2 separate regions of the Homo sapiens genome follow, and region 2 is linked to region 1. A link means that fine-mapping ties the variant in region 1 to the expression of a gene that starts in the linked region. Tissue or cell type: minor salivary gland. Region 1 holds a variant in brackets; the other region holds the start of a gene. All regions are shown on one strand. Distances are between the middles of the regions.

Region 1 (8,101 bases):
TGGGGGTCACAGCAAGTGCAGATGGAGCTCAGATTCTTCGGTTAACTGTCACCCTCTCCCCTCCCCCATCACACACACCAGGCCCTGCCAGGACAAGGCAGCTCCTGGAAGCTCCACCAGGACCCACGTCCACCAGGTGTCACAGCAGGCTGCTTCTCTCTCTCTCTGCCCCCCGTGGGCTCTTCGCACCGCTCCCTCCCAGCCATCTTCCCTGCCTGACCTTGGTCTCTCTCTCTCTGTCTCCGTCACCTTCATGCCTGTGCCGTCTTTCTCGCTCTCTATCAACTCTGCTGTGTGTCCCCCTGGGGAAAGTGGGGGCACCTCCTCCTGAGCCCCCTGCCCAAGTTTCCTGCTGGGACGGGAGCCACTTCACCCCATACACACTCCCTGAAGCCCCTCCAGGACTCCAGCCTGGCTGCAAACACCCATCCTGGACTTTGCCTGGCCCTCCAGGCTCTGCTGGGGGAAGCGACCTGAGAGGCCCCTGCCTGGGCTGTAGGTGGGGACAGGGCAGACCCTTGGGCAGCGGAGCCTCTCTGGATGGGTGTTGAGGCACCCTGCAGAAACAGCTCCCCACAGGCACCCTTGCCACACCCCTGGGACTACAGGCACTTAGGGTACACCAGAGGCATGAAGTGTGGAGGGGGTTGGCCAACGGCCAAGCTCAAATAGGGGTTCAGATAGGAGAGGTCAATGTGGGCTCCTCTGAGCCCCAGTGACCCCCTTCTCCCCACCCACCTGGTGACAGGCATCTCGAACCCTTGGCCCCCATGGACCCCCTGAGGCGCTCCCCCTCTCCCTGCCTGTCCTCGCAGCCCTCCAGCCCCAGCACCCCACCCTGCGAGATGCTTGGTCCTGTGGGCATTGAGGCTGTGCTGGACCAGCTGAAGATCAAGGCTATGAAGATGGGGTTTGAGTTCAACATCATGGTGGTGGGTGAGTGAGAGGTAGGGCCCACGGCAGGACAGACCCACAGTGCTACGCGTGCCTGGGCGTGTGGCCTCACCTTTGGCAGCCTGTCGCCCCTCCCCATCTCTTAGGTGGGCCTGATAATAGCACCTCACAGGGATGTTGTCATTGAAAATTTGAGAAATGCTGAGTCATTAAAAGACAAAAATGTGCCTGGAGCGGTGGCTCACACCTATAATCCAGGGTTTTGGGAGACTGAGGTGGGTGGATCACTTGAGCTCAGGAGTTTGAGACTAGCAAAACCTAATGTCTACAAAAAGTACAAAAATGAGGCCGGGCATGGTGGCTCAAGCCTGTAATTCCAGCACTTTGAAAGGCCAAGGCAGGAGGGTCACTTGAGGTCAGGAGTTCGAAAACAGCCTGGCCAACATGGGGAAACTCCGTCTCTACTAAAAATACAAAAATTTGCCAGGCGTGGTGGTGGGCGCCTGTACTTAGGAGCTACTTAGGAGGCTAAGGCAGGAGAATTGCTTGAACCTGGGAGGCAGATGTTGTAGTGAGCCGAGATTGCGCCACTGTACTCCAGCCTGGGTGACAGAGCAAGACTGAAGCAGAAGGATCCCTGGAGGCCAGGAGTTCATGACCAGCCTAGGCAACACAGCAAGACCCCATCTCTACAAAAAAAATTTAAAAATTAGCCAGGCATGGTGACATGCACCTGAATCCCAGCTACTTGGGGGGCTGAGGTGGGAGGATCGTTTGAACCTGAGGGTGGAGGTTGCAGTGAGCTGCGATCACTTGAGTCTGGGTGACAGATTGAGACCCTGTCTTAAAAATTAAAAAACAGTGCAAGGCCGGGTGTGGTGGCTCACGCCTGTAATCCCAGCACTTTGGGAGGCTGAGGCAGGCGGATCATGAGGTCAGGAAATCAAGACCATCCTGGCTAACATGGTGAAACCCCGTCTCTACTAAAAATACAAAAAAATTAGCCAGGCGTGGTGGCGGGCGCCTGTAGTCCCAGCTACTTGGGAGGCTGAGACAGGGGAATGGCGTGAATCTGGGAGGCGGAGCTTGCAGTGAACCGAGATCCCACCATCGCGCTCCAGCCTGGGTGACAGAGCGAGACTGCGTCTCAAAAAAAAAAAAAAAAAAAGCAGTGCAAAAATCAGCTGGGTATGGTGGCGTGTGCCTACAGTCCCAGCTACTAGGGAGGCCGAGGTGCGAGAATCACTAGAGTCTGGGAAGGTCGAGGCTGCAGTGAACGGGGATTGCATCATTGCACTCCAGCCTGGGTGACAGAGTGAGAACCTGTCTCCAAAAATAAAATAGAAAAGTAAAGAGTTAGAGAAAAACTGCCTAAAACGCCCACCCTAACTGCTGTCATCCGGTTGCCACTCCCAGGGCAAAGCGGGCTGGGCAAGTCCACGATGGTGAACACGCTGTTCAAGTCCAAAGTGTGGAAGTCAAACCCACCGGGCTTGGGGGTGCCCACACCCCAGACGCTGCAGCTGCATTCACTGACCCATGGTGAGTGAGCCCCTGCCCACACCTCACCCCACCCTGCCCCACCCCATCCCACCTGGGTCCAGTCTCTCCCGACTCTGCTCTCCCTCCACAGTCATAGAGGAGAAGGGTGTGAAGCTGAAGCTGACGGTGACGGACACGCCCGGCTTCGGGGACCAGATCAACAATGACAACTGGTAGGTTCTCTCTCTTTTTTTTTTTTTTTAGGCAGAGTTTCACTCTTGTCACCCAGGCTGGAGTGCAATGGCATGATCTCGGCTCACTGCAACCTCCACCTCCCAGGTTCAAGTGATTCTCCTGCCTCAGCCTCCCGAAGTAGCTGGGATTACAGGCGCCCGCCACCACGCCCAGCTAATTTTTTTTGTATTTTTAGTTGAGATGGGGTTTCACCATGTTGGCCAGGCTGGTCTTGAACTCCTGACCTCAGATGATCCACCCGCCTCGGCCTCCCAAAGTGCTGGGATTACAGGCATGAGCCACTGTGCCCGCAACAAGTGGTGGGTTCTCAAAGGTGGGGGCCAAGCCATGGCTGTCCCCTCCTGTCCGTGCCCCTCCCCCTTCAACCTTTGGGAAACACCCCAGACCTGGAACAGCCAGGCTGTGTGATCTTTTTTTTTTTTGAGACAGAATCTAGCTCTTGTCGCCCAGGCCAGAGTGCAGTGACACAATCTCGGCTCACTGCAACCTCTGCCTCCTGGGTTCAAGCAATTTCCGGCTAATTTTTTTTTTTTTTAAGACAGACTCGCTCTTGTCACCCAGGCCAGAGTGCAGTGGCACAATCTCTGCTCACTGCAACCTCCGCCTCCCGGGGTTCAAGCAATTCTCCTGCCTCAGCCTCCCAAGTAGCTGGGATTACAGACATCCGCCAACACGCTCGGCTACTTTTTTGAATTTATTTAGTAGAGACGGGGTTTCACCACGTTGGCCAGGCTGGTCTCAAACTCCTGACCTCGGGTGGTCCGCCCACCTCAGTCTCCCAAAGTGCTGGGATTACAGGTGTGAGCCACTGCACCCGGCCCAATTTTTGTATTTTTAGTAGAGACGGGGATTTCCCCATGTTGGCCAGGCTGGTCTCGAACTACTGACCTCAGGTGATCCACTTGCTTCAGCCTCCCAAAGCACTGGGATTACACGCATAAGCCACCGCACCTGGCCCTGGTTTCATTTTATTTATTTATTTATTTATTTATTTATTTATTTATTTATTTATTTAGAGACAGTGTCTCAGTCTGTTTCCCAGGCTGGAGTGCAGTGGCGAGATCATGGCTCACTGCAGCCTTGACCTCCCCAAGCTCAAGGACCCTCCTGCCTCAGCCTCCTGAGTAGCTGTGACCACAGGCACGTGCCACCCCACCGAGCTAATTTGTGTATTTTTTGTAGAGTTGGCGTTTCCCCATGTTGCCCAGGCTAGCCTCGAATTCCTGGGCTCGAGCGATCCTCCTGCCTCCGCCTCCCAAAGTGCTGGGATTACAGGCATGAGCCATCGGGCCTGGCCTGACACCTGTTTTTAAAAGGATCTGTTTGGCTACTTACAGTGTTGACAATACCCAAGAGGGGAAGGGACTCGAAGAGGAGGAGGGAGACCCCTGCAACCATCAGGCGCGATTCCTTGGTGGTTTGGGCCCAGCTGTGGCCCTTTAATACAGTTAATGCTCACCCCTCCCT[T/G]ACTTGCAACGTAGGTGCTACTATTGTCTCCATTTTACAGACAGTGAAGCCGAGAATGGCAGGAGGTCTCCCTGTGTGTCTCTGATGATGCAGGGAAGTGGGGGAAAGTACCGGGGTGACCCACAGGTCCCGGGCCAACCGGGACGATTCGTCGTCCCAAGGGAGGACCGCCCAGAGGACACAGAGGAGAGGGGTGGGGCTCTCTGGGCACAGCACAGTTCTGAGGGGAGGGTCCACCTCCCGCCTCAGCTGGGACCCCATCCTGGGCTACATCAACGAGCAATACGAGCAGTACCTGCAGGAGGAGATCCTCATCACCCGCCAGCGCCACATCCCAGACACCCGGGTGCACTGCTGCGTGTACTTTGTACCACCCACTGGGCACTGGTGAGGGGGCTGCACCTGCAAGGCGAGGACCACCTGCACGGGGCAGGGAGGAGGAGAAGGGGTCCCCACCATGGGCTGCCGGCTGCCCCCACCCCCGTGCCCTGCTGCTGTCGTTTATACACTCACCACCACCGCCACCCCCATCACTGCCCTGCCTCCGGCAGCCTGCGGCCCCTGGACATTGAGTTCCTGCAGCGGCTGTGCCGGACTGTGAATGTGGTGCCCGTGATTGCCAGGGCCGACAGCCTGACCATGGAGGAGCGAGAGGCCTTCAGGCGCAGGGTGATCTGGATGCCCGGGCAGGGCTGGGGTCAGCGGGGGCAGAGGGCAGAGTGGGCAGGGTGGGCTGAGGTCACCTGTGTGGGATCTCCAGATCCAGCAGAACCTGAGGACCCACTGCATCGACGTCTACCCCCAGATGTGCTTTGACGAGGACATCAATGACAAAATCCTCAACAGCAAGTTACGGGTGAGAGGCTGTGGGGCGGGAGGCGGGCGAGGTGATTTCCTTCCCACACATCCTTTCCATCCAAAGACTCATCTTTCTCTACATCTCAGGGAAATGTGCACATATTCCTAGCAGATATGATTCTCTACTCATCCACAAGCTCAAGGTGAGCAAGAAATAACAGCTCACACTAACAACCCACAGAATCGGAGAAAATGTCTGCGAATCACATACCCAATAAGGGGCTTGTATCCTGAATATATAGAGAACATTGGGCCGGGCACAGTGGCTCACGCCTGTAATCCCAGCAGTTTGGGAGGCCGAGGCAGGCAGATCGCTTGAGGTCAGGAGTTGGAGACCAGCCTGGCCAACATGGTGAAACCTTGTCTCTGCCAAAAATGCAAAAAATTGGCTGGGTGTGGTGGTGCACGCCTTTAGTCCCAGCTACTCAGGAGGCTGAAGCGGGAGAATTTTGAAACTGGGAGGCAGAGGTTGCAGTGAGTGAGCTGAGATGGCGCCATTGCACTCCAGCCTGGGCAAGAAGAGTGAAACTCCATCTCAGAAAAAAAAAATGTGTTGGCCGGGCGCAGTGGCTCAGCCCTGTAATCCCTGCACTTTGGGAGGCCGAGGTGGGTGGATCACCTGAGGTCAGGAGTTCGAGACCAGCCTGGCCAACATGACGAAACCCCGTCTCTACTAAAAATACAAGAAATCAGCTGGGCGTGGTGGTGGGTGCCTGTAAGCCCAGCTACTCAGGAGGCTGAGGCAGGAGAATCGGTTGAATCTTGGAGGTGGAGGTTACGGTGAGCCGAGATTGCGCCACTGCACCCCAGCCTGGGCAACAAGAGCAAAACTCCAGCTTAAAAAAAAAAGTGCTGTGGAAGATGTGGAGGAACTGAAACCCTCACCTACTGCTGGAGGGAAAGTAAAATGGCTCAGCCACTTTGGAAAACAGTCTGGTGGTTCCTCAAATGCTTAAACATGCAGTTACTCTATGACCCAGCAACTGAACTCCTACGTGTATACCCAAAAGAAACAAAAATGTACATTCACAGAAAAATGTGTACGTGAATGTTCACAGCAGCATTATTTATTTTAGCCCCGAAAGTGGAAGCAACCCAAATATGCATCAACAGATGAGTGGGGAAACACAGTGCGGCCTATTCCCTACCATGGACTATCCCTTAACCATGAAAAGCAATGAAGTTCACCCTTTAAAAGTGTACAGTTCAAGGCTGGGCTCAGTGGCTCATGCCTGTAATCCCAGCACTTTGGGAAGCTGAGGTGGGCAGATCACTTGCGGCCAGGGGTTCGAGACCAGCCTGGCTAACATGGTGAAACTCTGTCTCTACTAAAAATACAAAATTAGCTGCGTGTGGTGGCACGCACCTGTAATCCCAGCTACTGGGGAGACTGAGGCAGGAGAATTGCTTGAACCTGGAAGGTGAAGGTTGCAGTGAGCAGAGATTGTGACACTGCACTCCAGCCTGGGCAAGGGAGTGAGACCCTGTCTCAAAAAAAAAAAAAAAAAAAAAAAAAGGCCGGGCACGGTGGCTCACACCTGTAATCCCAGCACTTTGGGCGGCTGAGGTGGGCAGATTACCTGAGGTCGGGAGTTCGAGACCAGCCTGACCGACATGGAGAAATCCCGTCTCTCCTAAAAATACAAAATTAGCCGGGTGTGGTGGTGCATGCCTGTAATCCCAGCTACTTAGGAGGCTGAGGCAGGAGAATCACTTGAACCCAGGAGATGGAGATTGCAGTGAGCTGAGATCACACCGTTGCACCCCAGCCTGGGCAAGGGAGTGAGACCCTGTCTCAAAAAAAAAAAAAAAAATGAAGCACTGTCACCCTGTCACCTGCCTGCTACAGCGTGGGGGAACCTTGTAAACATGTTTCTCAGACAAAAATCAGTCAGACACAAAAGGTCACGTATTATGGGATTCCATTTATATGAAATGTCCCAAATAGGCATAGGCAAATCTATAGAGACAGAAAGTAGATTGGTGGTAGTCAGGGGCTGTGGGGAAGGGAGAAATGGGGAGTGATTGCTAAAAGGTATGGGGTTTTTTTGGGGGGACGTGATGAAAACGTTGTGAAATTAGATTGCGATGATGGTTGCATAACCCTGGTCAAATACTAAAAACCCCCGTACCGTACAATGTTTTGTTTGTTTTGTTTTTAATGTTGTTTTTTTTATGAGATAGGGTCTTTTTTTTTTTTTTAGATGGAGTCTCCCTCTGTCACCCAAGCTGGAGTATAGTGGCGTGATCTCCGCTCACTGCAACCCCTGCCTCCTGGGTTCAAGCGATTCTCCTGCCTCAGCCTCCTGAGTAGCTGGGACTATAGGTGCACAATACCACGCCTGGCTAATTATTGTCTTTTTGGTAGAGATGGGGTTTCACTATTTCAGCCAGGGTGATCTCGATCTCCTGACCTTGTGATCCACCCATCTCAGCCTCCCAAAGTGCTGGGATTATAGGCGTGAGCCACCGTGCCCAGCAGAGACAGGGTCTTGTTCTGTGGCCCAGGCTGGGGTGCAGTGGCAGGATCTCCGTTCACAGCAACCTCCAACCTCCTGGGTTCAGGTGATTCTCCCACCTCAGCCTCCTGAGTAGCTGGGATTACAGGCATGCGCCACCACACCCAGCTAATTTTTTATTTTTCCTAGAGACAGGGTTTCACCATGTTGACCAGGCTGGTCTTGAAGTCCTGACCTCAGGTGATCTGCCTGCCTTCACCTCCCAAAATGCTAGGATTACAGGTGTGAGCCACCACGCCCAATATTATCAACATCCACATTACTCCCCATCACAGATGAATTCAGAAGTAAAAACCCATATATGTCACTTCGGAGTTTGCAAGTTTGAATTTCTGCTTCTGGCCATGAGCAAGTAAACAACTGGAGTTTACGGTAGGGTTCAACAACCTTTTCTGCAAAGGGCCAGGTAGTAAATGTTTTAGACTTTCTGGGCCGTAGGGTCTCTGTTGTGATGATTCAACTCTGATGTCATGGTTCAAGAGCAGCCATAGACAAAAATGACTCATAGGCTCAACTATGTGCCAATAAAACTTTATATATAGGAAGACAGGCAGGCTGGGTGTGGTAGCTCACTCCTATAATCCCACCACTTTGGAAGGCAGAGGCGGGAGGATCACTTGAGCCCA
Region 2 (8,101 bases), 310 kb after region 1:
CATACACACTGACAGCACAGTTCACCAGACAACAATCACTCTTCTGGCGTCCCTTTCCCCAGGTATTCTATTCGCTTACTGCTCTATCTTCCCTGCCAGTCCACTCCCTCCTCTTTCCAGCCTGTGCCTTAGACAAGGACCCCAAACAAGGATCACCTGGGAAACTCCAAAAAACAGATTCCTAGTCATAATCCCAATTTTACCAAAAAAGAAGCGTTTGGAAACCCCTTAGATCGACAAGCAGCATCCAAAGACACCAAAAACTTAGGCTCATCAAGTATTAACTTCCTGCCTCAGCCTCCCAAGTAGCTGAGATTACAGGTATGTGCTAGCATCCTACTTATTGTTCACTCTGATAGAATTTTTTTTTCTTTGAGATGAAGTTTTGCTCTTGTCGCCCAGGCTGGAGTGCAATGGCATGATCTTGGCTCACTGAAACCTCTGCCTCCCAGGTTCAAGCAATTCTCCTTGCTCAGCCTCCCGAGTAGCTGGGATTACAGGCTACTTTTTGCAAGGCTAATTTTTGTATTTTTAGTAGAGACGGGGTTTCACAATGTTAGCCAGGCTGGTCTCGAACTCCTGACCTCAGGTGATCCACCCGCCTTGGTCTCCCAAAGTGCTGGGATTACAGGCGTGAGCCACCGCACCCAGTCTAGGTCAAGTTTTTCATCTCTTTCCTTTCCAAGGAGTTAAAGCTGAATTTCAAATTTTACAGTGAAATACACAATTCTAATTTTCTTTCTTTCTTTTTTTTTTTTTTGAGATGCAGTTTTGCTCCTGTTGCCCAGGCTGGAATGCAGTGGCACAATCTTGGCTCATCGCAACCTCTGCCTCCCAGGTTCAAGTGATTCTCCTGCCTCGGCCTCCCAAGTAGCTCGGATTACAGGCACACACCACCATGCCCAGCTAATTTTTGTATTATTATTATTTTTTTCTTAGTAGAGATGGGGTTTTTCCATGTTGGTCAGGCTGGTCTCTATCTCCCGACCTCAGGTGATCCGCCCATCTCGGCCTCCCAAAGTGCTGGGATCACAAGCATGAGCCACTGCACCGGGCCCACAATTCTAATTTTCAAATATATCTTCCTCCTGGAGGAGTGATATTCCAGTTTTGGGTGCAATCCTGATGTAGAGCCCAACTGTCCTGTGAAGAGAGTCAGCTGTTAAAAGGAAACCAAAAAATCAAGGTAGCTCTAGCTGTCCAATTTTACAAGTTTTCAACAGACTTGATGAGGGGTGAGCTAAAGGCGGTCAATGCTTTATTGTCTGTAACTCACTGGCACTGGCATTTCTAGAGTTGCTCACGTTCCCCCTTTTGGTGACTCACAGCACTTCAACATGTTGCCACAGCCAAGGAAAAAAGGAAATCAAGTCAGACAATGGAGGAATCACAGGATTTCCCTCTTCACATCCCCAGGTAGATGAGGTCATTCAATGAGTGTGTTTCCAAGGCTCCACAAATTCCCACACCCTCACCAGTGTTTAAACCTGAATGTTTTATCTGATAACTTTTTCTAATTTCACCAAGTAAGCTTATATATGTCTTAACTGTGAACTCCTGATAAGCACAAATTTTGTCTTGTGATAATTTATTTTTTTCTTTTTTGAGACAGGGTCTCACTCTGTCACCCAGGCTGGAGTGCAGTGATGCGATCTCAGCTCACTGCAATCTCCACTTCGTGGGCTCAAGTGATCCTCCAACCTCAAACTCCCCAGTAGCTGGGATTACAGACACGCGCCACCCCGCCCGTTTAACTTTTTTGTATTTTTAGTAGAGACGGGGTTTCACCATGTTGGCCAGGCTGATCTCGAACTCCTGACCTCAGGTGATCCGCCTGCCTCGGCCTCCCAAAGTGCTGGGATTACAGGAGTGAGCCACTGCACCGGCCAGCGTTTCTTTCTTCAATCACACTCCACCTTGTCTGGTTTGTAGCGCCATCAACAAAACACAGTACGTAAGGATGGACAGCCACAGGCCACGACAACCGGCTCATCAGAAGCGATTTTTTTTTTTTTTTTTTTTTTTTTTAGATGGAGTCTTGCTCTGTCGCCCAGGCTGGAGTGCAATGGCGTGATCTCGGCTCACTGCAACCTCTGCCTCCCGGGTTCAAGCGATTCTCCTGCCTCAGCCTCCTAAGTAGCTGGAGCTACAGGCTCACGTTACCATGCCCGGCTGATTTTTGTATTTTTAGTAGAGACGGGGTTTCACTATGTTGGCCAGGCTGGTCTCGGACTCCTGACCTCAAGCAATCCGCCCGCCCTGGCCTCCCAAAGTGCTGGAATTACAGGCGTGAGCCACCGACCCGGCCCAGACGCGATTTAAATGGCATGACACAGGCAGGCCTCGTGCAAAGACTGCAAGGAGGTCCCGGCAGCTTTTGCAGGGCAATTAATCCACCCAGAGCACTGCGCTCAGAAAGTAATAGGTAAACCCGCGTCCGGACTAACCGGCTGCCCCCACACTTGATCCCTCCCAGTCCGACTCTGCTCCAGGGCGTACCAGGGTTCACTCGTGAAGTCACGACACCCACTCAAGGGGCACTTCCTATAGAGATAAGGGCATTAGAGGAAGGGCAGAGCCCCGGTCAATGCCAACAGCCCGGGAAACAGCCAAGCCGGGCTCCAATCTCTGCCGGCATCCCCTGTCTGCACCGCCGACGCCCCCAGCTACGACCCCGGGGGTCACCTCGCCCAGCATAGCCGTGACGCTGGGAGAGGGTGGGCCCAACGGGGACGCCAAAGAGAGCCATTCAGGCCTCCCCGCGCCCCCGGGGAGACGACTTCTGGAGAGCGGCGTCCGCGGTTTCGCCCTCCCCTGACAGCCCCTCCACGCCCTTCTTCGTCCTTCTGCCCGGCCTCACCCAGCTTCCGGCCGCCCCCGGCCGGGTCTCCCCTCAGACCGGCGCAGGGGACCCAAAGGGCTGTGGCCCGGCCAAGCCCAGGTCCGAAGGCCTGGACCGAGGCAGGGCCCGCGAAGGACGCAGCGCGGTCCGAGAAGCCGGGCGGAAGGAAGGCCCCGGGAGGGCGCGGACAGCTCACCTGCCGCAGGTCGCTGTCGCCTGTCCGCCAGCCTCCAGTCAGCGTGCCCGTCAGCGACTCCCTCAGGCGCCGCAGTCCCTGCAGCCCAGCGGACTGGCGCGAGGCCGGCGCAACGTGGGCACGCAGCGCGGGGCGGGGCCTAGAGATGACACGCCCCTTGTAGCTGACACGCCCTTGCCGGGGGCGGGAAGCGGAGTATGTGGCTTTCCCCAGGTCTCTGGAGGTTGCAGGCTCAGGCTCTGCTCAGCGGGGTAAGTAGGCGTGCTTCGGCAGGAACACTAGTGTTCACAAGAGCCGAGGTGTGTGAGGGTGCCTCAGGGTTGAGCACTTTTCTTCCCCAGTGTGGTTTAATCCTTGTACATCCACTCAGTGATGTAAGAAATAGGGTTGTCAACCGTGGCACCACCCACTTGGTCACTTGCCAATGCAATCTGCGAAACTGAGTCTCAACTCTGACACCTCGGTTACCAGTCTTGTATCTGATCTCCCTGTTGCATTATTCGCATTCTTCAAACAGCGGCCAGAATGACAGAATGATTTTTCTTTTTTTGAGACCGAGTTTTGCTCGTCGCCCAGGCTGGAGTGCAATGACGTGATCTCGGCTCACTGCAACCCCCTTCTCCCGGGTTCAAGCGATTCTCCTGCCTTAACCTCCCGAATAGCTGGGATTACAAGCGCCTGCCACCACGCCCGGCTAATTTTTGTATTTTTAGTAGAGACGGGGGTTTCACCATGTTGGCCAGGCTGGTCTCGAACTCCTGAGCTCAGGTGATCCACCCGCCTCGGCCTCCCAAATCACTGCAATTACAGGCCACCGCACCCAGCCCAGAGTCATTTTTTAGTTTTACTGAACACAAAGAAATTACTGAAATCGTGGGCCGGGTGTGGTGGCTCATGTCTGTAATCCCAGCACTTTGGGAGCCTGAGGCGGGAAGATCACTTGAGGTCAGCAGTTCGAGACCAGCCTGGCCAGCATGTTGAAACCCCGTCTCTACCAAAAATACAAAAAAATTTTAGCCGGGCATGGTGGCTCCTGCCTGTAATCCCAGCTACTCAGGAAACTGAGGCAGGAGAATCACTTGAACCCAAGAGGCGGAAGTTGCAGTGAGCCAAGATCGCACCACCACTGCACTCCAGCCTGGGCCACAGAGCAAGACTCCACCTTGAAAACAAAAAACAAAAACAAAAAAAAACTGAAATCAGTGCAAGTAGCAGCAACTTCAGAAGTGAGTTAGGGCTGGGCACGGTGGCTCCCACCTGTACTCCCAGCACTTTGGGAGGCTGAGGTGGGTGGATCACTTTAAGTCAGGAGTTCGAGACCTGCCTGGTCAACCTGGTGAAACCCCGTCTCTACTAAAAAATACAAAAATTAGCCGGGCTTGGTGGCACATGCTTGTAATCCCAGCTACTCGGGAGGCTGAGGCAGGAGAATCTCTTGAACCCGGGGGGCGGAGGTTGCAGTAAGCCGAGATCGCGCCACTGCACACCAGCCTGGGCGACGGACCAAGACACTGTCTCAAAAAAATAAAAATAATAAAATTTTAAAAGTGAGTTAGGCAAAGAAAATATCAAGCGGACAAGGCCTCAAGGGATAAGACTCATGGACATAGCTTTAATTATCTTTGCCTGACGCCCAATACCTGAAAATTAAGATGTTCATGCAAGATAAAGAGGTAATTTTTCTCCTCCTCCCAGTCATCACCCGTAGCATCCGGTTAAGAGGCTCTCCACCTCGCTCATTTTGGTCTAACTGGATTTACACAAACTCACTGTGCACGTGCCTGGGGCGGGCAAACCCGGAAACGACGCCGAGTCCCGCGGGATCCAGGAGGAGCCAACTGCGCCGGAGGAGGGGTTTCGGCCGACACGTCGGGATTGGCGGCTGCAGCCAGGGGTCCTCCGACGCTGGGCTTCCGTGAGCGGCGCTCTGCCAGGTGGGGCCGGAGCTGCGGGGAGGGAGTTGGCGCCTAGCGCGCAGCTCCATCCCCGCCTCTGCAGTGGACTCGGCCGCAGAATCGGGGTCCCGGGCTCCTGGAACTTGTCCCGCCCAGGCCGCGGCGAGGAGGTCACTCCAGCCGGTGGGACCCGGGCCGGGGGGCGGGTGACTGGAACCGGGGGAGGCGGGAAGGAGGAGGGGATCGGGCCCAAGGGACACGAGGTGGGTCGCGGGACCCCGATATCTCGGGACAGGCGTCTTGCCGCTCCGGGCCCAGCCGCCCCCTTCGACACATACTCGATGCATAGACAATGGGGGTGTCCTTTGTCGCTCCTGGCGGGAACCCCGGCCCCACCCCCAACTCCACGCCTCCCATTACCCCCAGATCTCTGGACCGGATTCGTCCCATTCTCGTCCTCATGGTGGACAAGAAACTGGTGGTGGTTTTCGGAGGCACAGGTGAGCCAAACCCCAGACTGGGGCCCTTGCAGAGCCAGGGCGCCTAGCCCTGAAGACCGCCCGTCCTGGGGTCTGCAGGGAGGGGTAAGGTCACTGGGACCCCCGACCCAGGTTGGGGCTGTGGTCGCAGGAACGAGGCCCAAATTGCTTTCCAATTTTTTTTTTTTTGGACGGAGTTTTGCTCTGTCACCCAGGCTGCAGTGCGATGGCACGATCTCGGCTCATTGCAACCTTTGCCTCCCGGGTTGAAGCGATTCTCCTGTCTCAGCCTCCCGAGTAGCTGGGATTACAAGGGCATGCCACCACGCCCGGCTAATTTTTGTATTTTTAGTAGAGACGGGGTTTCATCATATTGGTCAGGCTGGTCTCAAACTCCTGACCTCAGGTGATGACCCGCCTCGGCCTCCCAAAGTGCAGGTATTACAGGCATGAACCACCACGCCAGACCTGCTTTCCAAATTAAAAAAAAATGAGTTACTTAACTTATTTGAATAGGAGTACTTGAACATGATACCAAAATTAAATCTTCTTCCTAGCCTCCTCTTCCACCTCATCTATTGCTGTTACCAAGTTTCTTGAATATCCTGCCAGAGTAGATAACATGTTATCATTTTTTCAAATGATAGCATATTATTTCATTCCTATTTTTTCTTATTTATACATATTTAATATCTCTAACAGCTTTATTGAGATATAATTCACGTACTATACAATCTACCTGTTTAAAGTGTGCAACTCACTGGTTTCTAGTGTATTCATAGAATTGTACAACCATCACCACAATCAATTTTAGAAAATTTCCATCACTCCAAAAAGAAACTCTGGCCCAGGTGCAGTGGCTCAACCCTGTAATCCCAGCACTTTAGTTGGACCAAATGGGCAGATCGCTTGAGCTGAGGTGTTTGAGACCAGCCTGAACAACAGGGCAAAATCTCGTCTCTACAAAAAAATACAAAAATTAGTGGGGCGTGGTGTCATGCACCTATAGCTACCTAGGAGGTTGAGGTGGGAGGATCACCTGAGTCCAGCAGGTCAAGGCTGCAGTGACCTGATTGTGCCACTGCACTCCAGCCTGGGCAACAGAGTGAGACCTGATCTCAAAAAAAAAAAAAAAAAAAAGAACTCCATGAACCCGTGAACAGTTACTCCCCATTCTTACTCCTCCCAGCCAACCCCTAGAAAGCTCCAATCTACTTTTGGTTTCTATGGATTTGTCTATTCGGGACATTTCATATGAATAAAATCATAATATGTAGCCTTTTCTCTCTGGCTTCTTCAGTTAGCATGTTTTCAAGGTTTGTTCATGTTGTAGTGTGTGTCCGGGCTTTACTCTTTTTTTTTTTTTTTTTGAGACAGAGTCCCGCTCTGTTGCCCAGGCAGCAGTGCAGTGGCGTGATCTCTGCTCACTGCAACTTCTGCCACTCGGGTTCAAGCGATTCTCCTGTCTCACCCTCCTGAGTAGCAGGGACTACAGGCGTGAGCCACCATGCCTGGCTAATTTTTGTATTTTTAATAGAGATGGGGTTTTGCCATGTGGCCAGGCTGGTCTCAAACTCCTGACCTCAGGTGATCTGCCCACTTCAGCTTCCTAAAGTGCTGGGATTAGAGGCTTGAGCCACCGCGCCCGGCCAACTTTACTTTTTTATTTTTAAGACAGAGTTTCTCTCTTGTTGCCCAGGCTGGAGTGCAATGGTGTGATCTCTGCTCGCTGCAACCTCTGCCTCCCGGGTTCAAGCAATTCTCCTGCCTCAGCCTCCCAAGTAGCTGGGATTACAGGTGTGCACCACCACACCCAGCTAATTTTGTATTTTTTAGTAGAGACGGGGTTTCACCATGTTGGTCAGGCTGGTCTCGAACTCCTGACAGCTTTACTTATTTTTATGGCTGAGTAATATTCCACCGTATGGATAGACTATATTCTGTTTGTCCATTCGTCAGTGGATGGATACTTGATTTATTTCCACTTTTTGGCTATTATGAATAATGCTGCCATGGAACATTGGTGTACACTTTTTTCTGAGTCAGGGTCTTGCTCTGTTGCCCAGGCTGGAGTGCAGTGGCTCAATCATCACTCACTACAGCTTTGACTTCCAAGCCTCAAGCAATCCTCCTGACTCATTCGCCTGAGTAGCTGGGACTTCAGATGAGCGCTAACAGGCCCAGCTGATTTTTTAATTTTTTGTAGAGACTGGGTCTCACCCTGCTGCCTAGGCTGGTCTCAAACTCCTGGCCTCAAGCAAAACCCATCCCCCTTACCCTCCCAAAGTGCTTAGATTACAGCTATGAGCTACTGTGCCCGGCCTCAGTCCTTATTTTTGATGCATTTCTGTGTAAATTGCAGATATGTGTACACCGCCCTTCCATACTAAAGCATGCATAACATTAGCTAGAATTCAGTATTTGTTTATAGATTATTTTTAATTATGAGGTAAAATATACATATAATAAAGAATTTTTTTTTTTTTTTTTTTTTGGAGACAGGGCCTTACTCTGTTACCCAGGCTGGCGTGCAGTGGTGTGATCACGGCTCACTGCAGCCTCAACCTCCTGGGTTCAGGCTTTCCTCCAGCCTCAGCCTCCCTGGTAGCTGGGACTACAGGCACATGCCACCACGCCCAGCTAATTTTTGGTTTTTTTTTGTAGAGATATGGTTTCACCATGTTGCCCA

The links. PIP is the estimated chance that this variant, and not a neighbour inherited with it, causes the effect.
Region 2: NMRAL1 starts here. The variant in region 1 is fine-mapped to the expression of NMRAL1 in minor salivary gland (GTEx, PIP 0.94).

The regions. Positions count from the first base shown.
Region 1 is chr16:4,780,315-4,788,415 of GRCh38, reverse strand. SEPTIN12 (septin 12) reads left to right here and starts at 71. Exons shown (of 10, transcript NM_144605.5): 1 at 71-136; 2 at 749-936; 3 at 2,311-2,436; 4 at 2,528-2,609; 5 at 4,348-4,485; 6 at 4,650-4,767; 7 at 4,859-4,954. The coding sequence starts at 771. It also overlaps a transcript of SMIM22 not described here. The variant T/G (reference allele first, on the strand shown) is at 4,099.
Region 2 is chr16:4,471,425-4,479,525 of GRCh38, reverse strand. NMRAL1 (NmrA like redox sensor 1) reads left to right here and starts at 4,901. Exons shown (of 6, transcript NM_020677.6): 1 at 4,901-4,972; 2 at 5,360-5,433. The coding sequence starts at 5,394. HMOX2 (heme oxygenase 2) reads right to left here and starts at 3,128. Exons shown (of 6, transcript NM_002134.4): 1 at 3,039-3,128. LOC124903636 (a long non-coding RNA gene) reads left to right here. Exons shown (of 3, transcript XR_007064964.1): 3 at 1-262. RefSeq lists an enhancer at 2,831-3,332.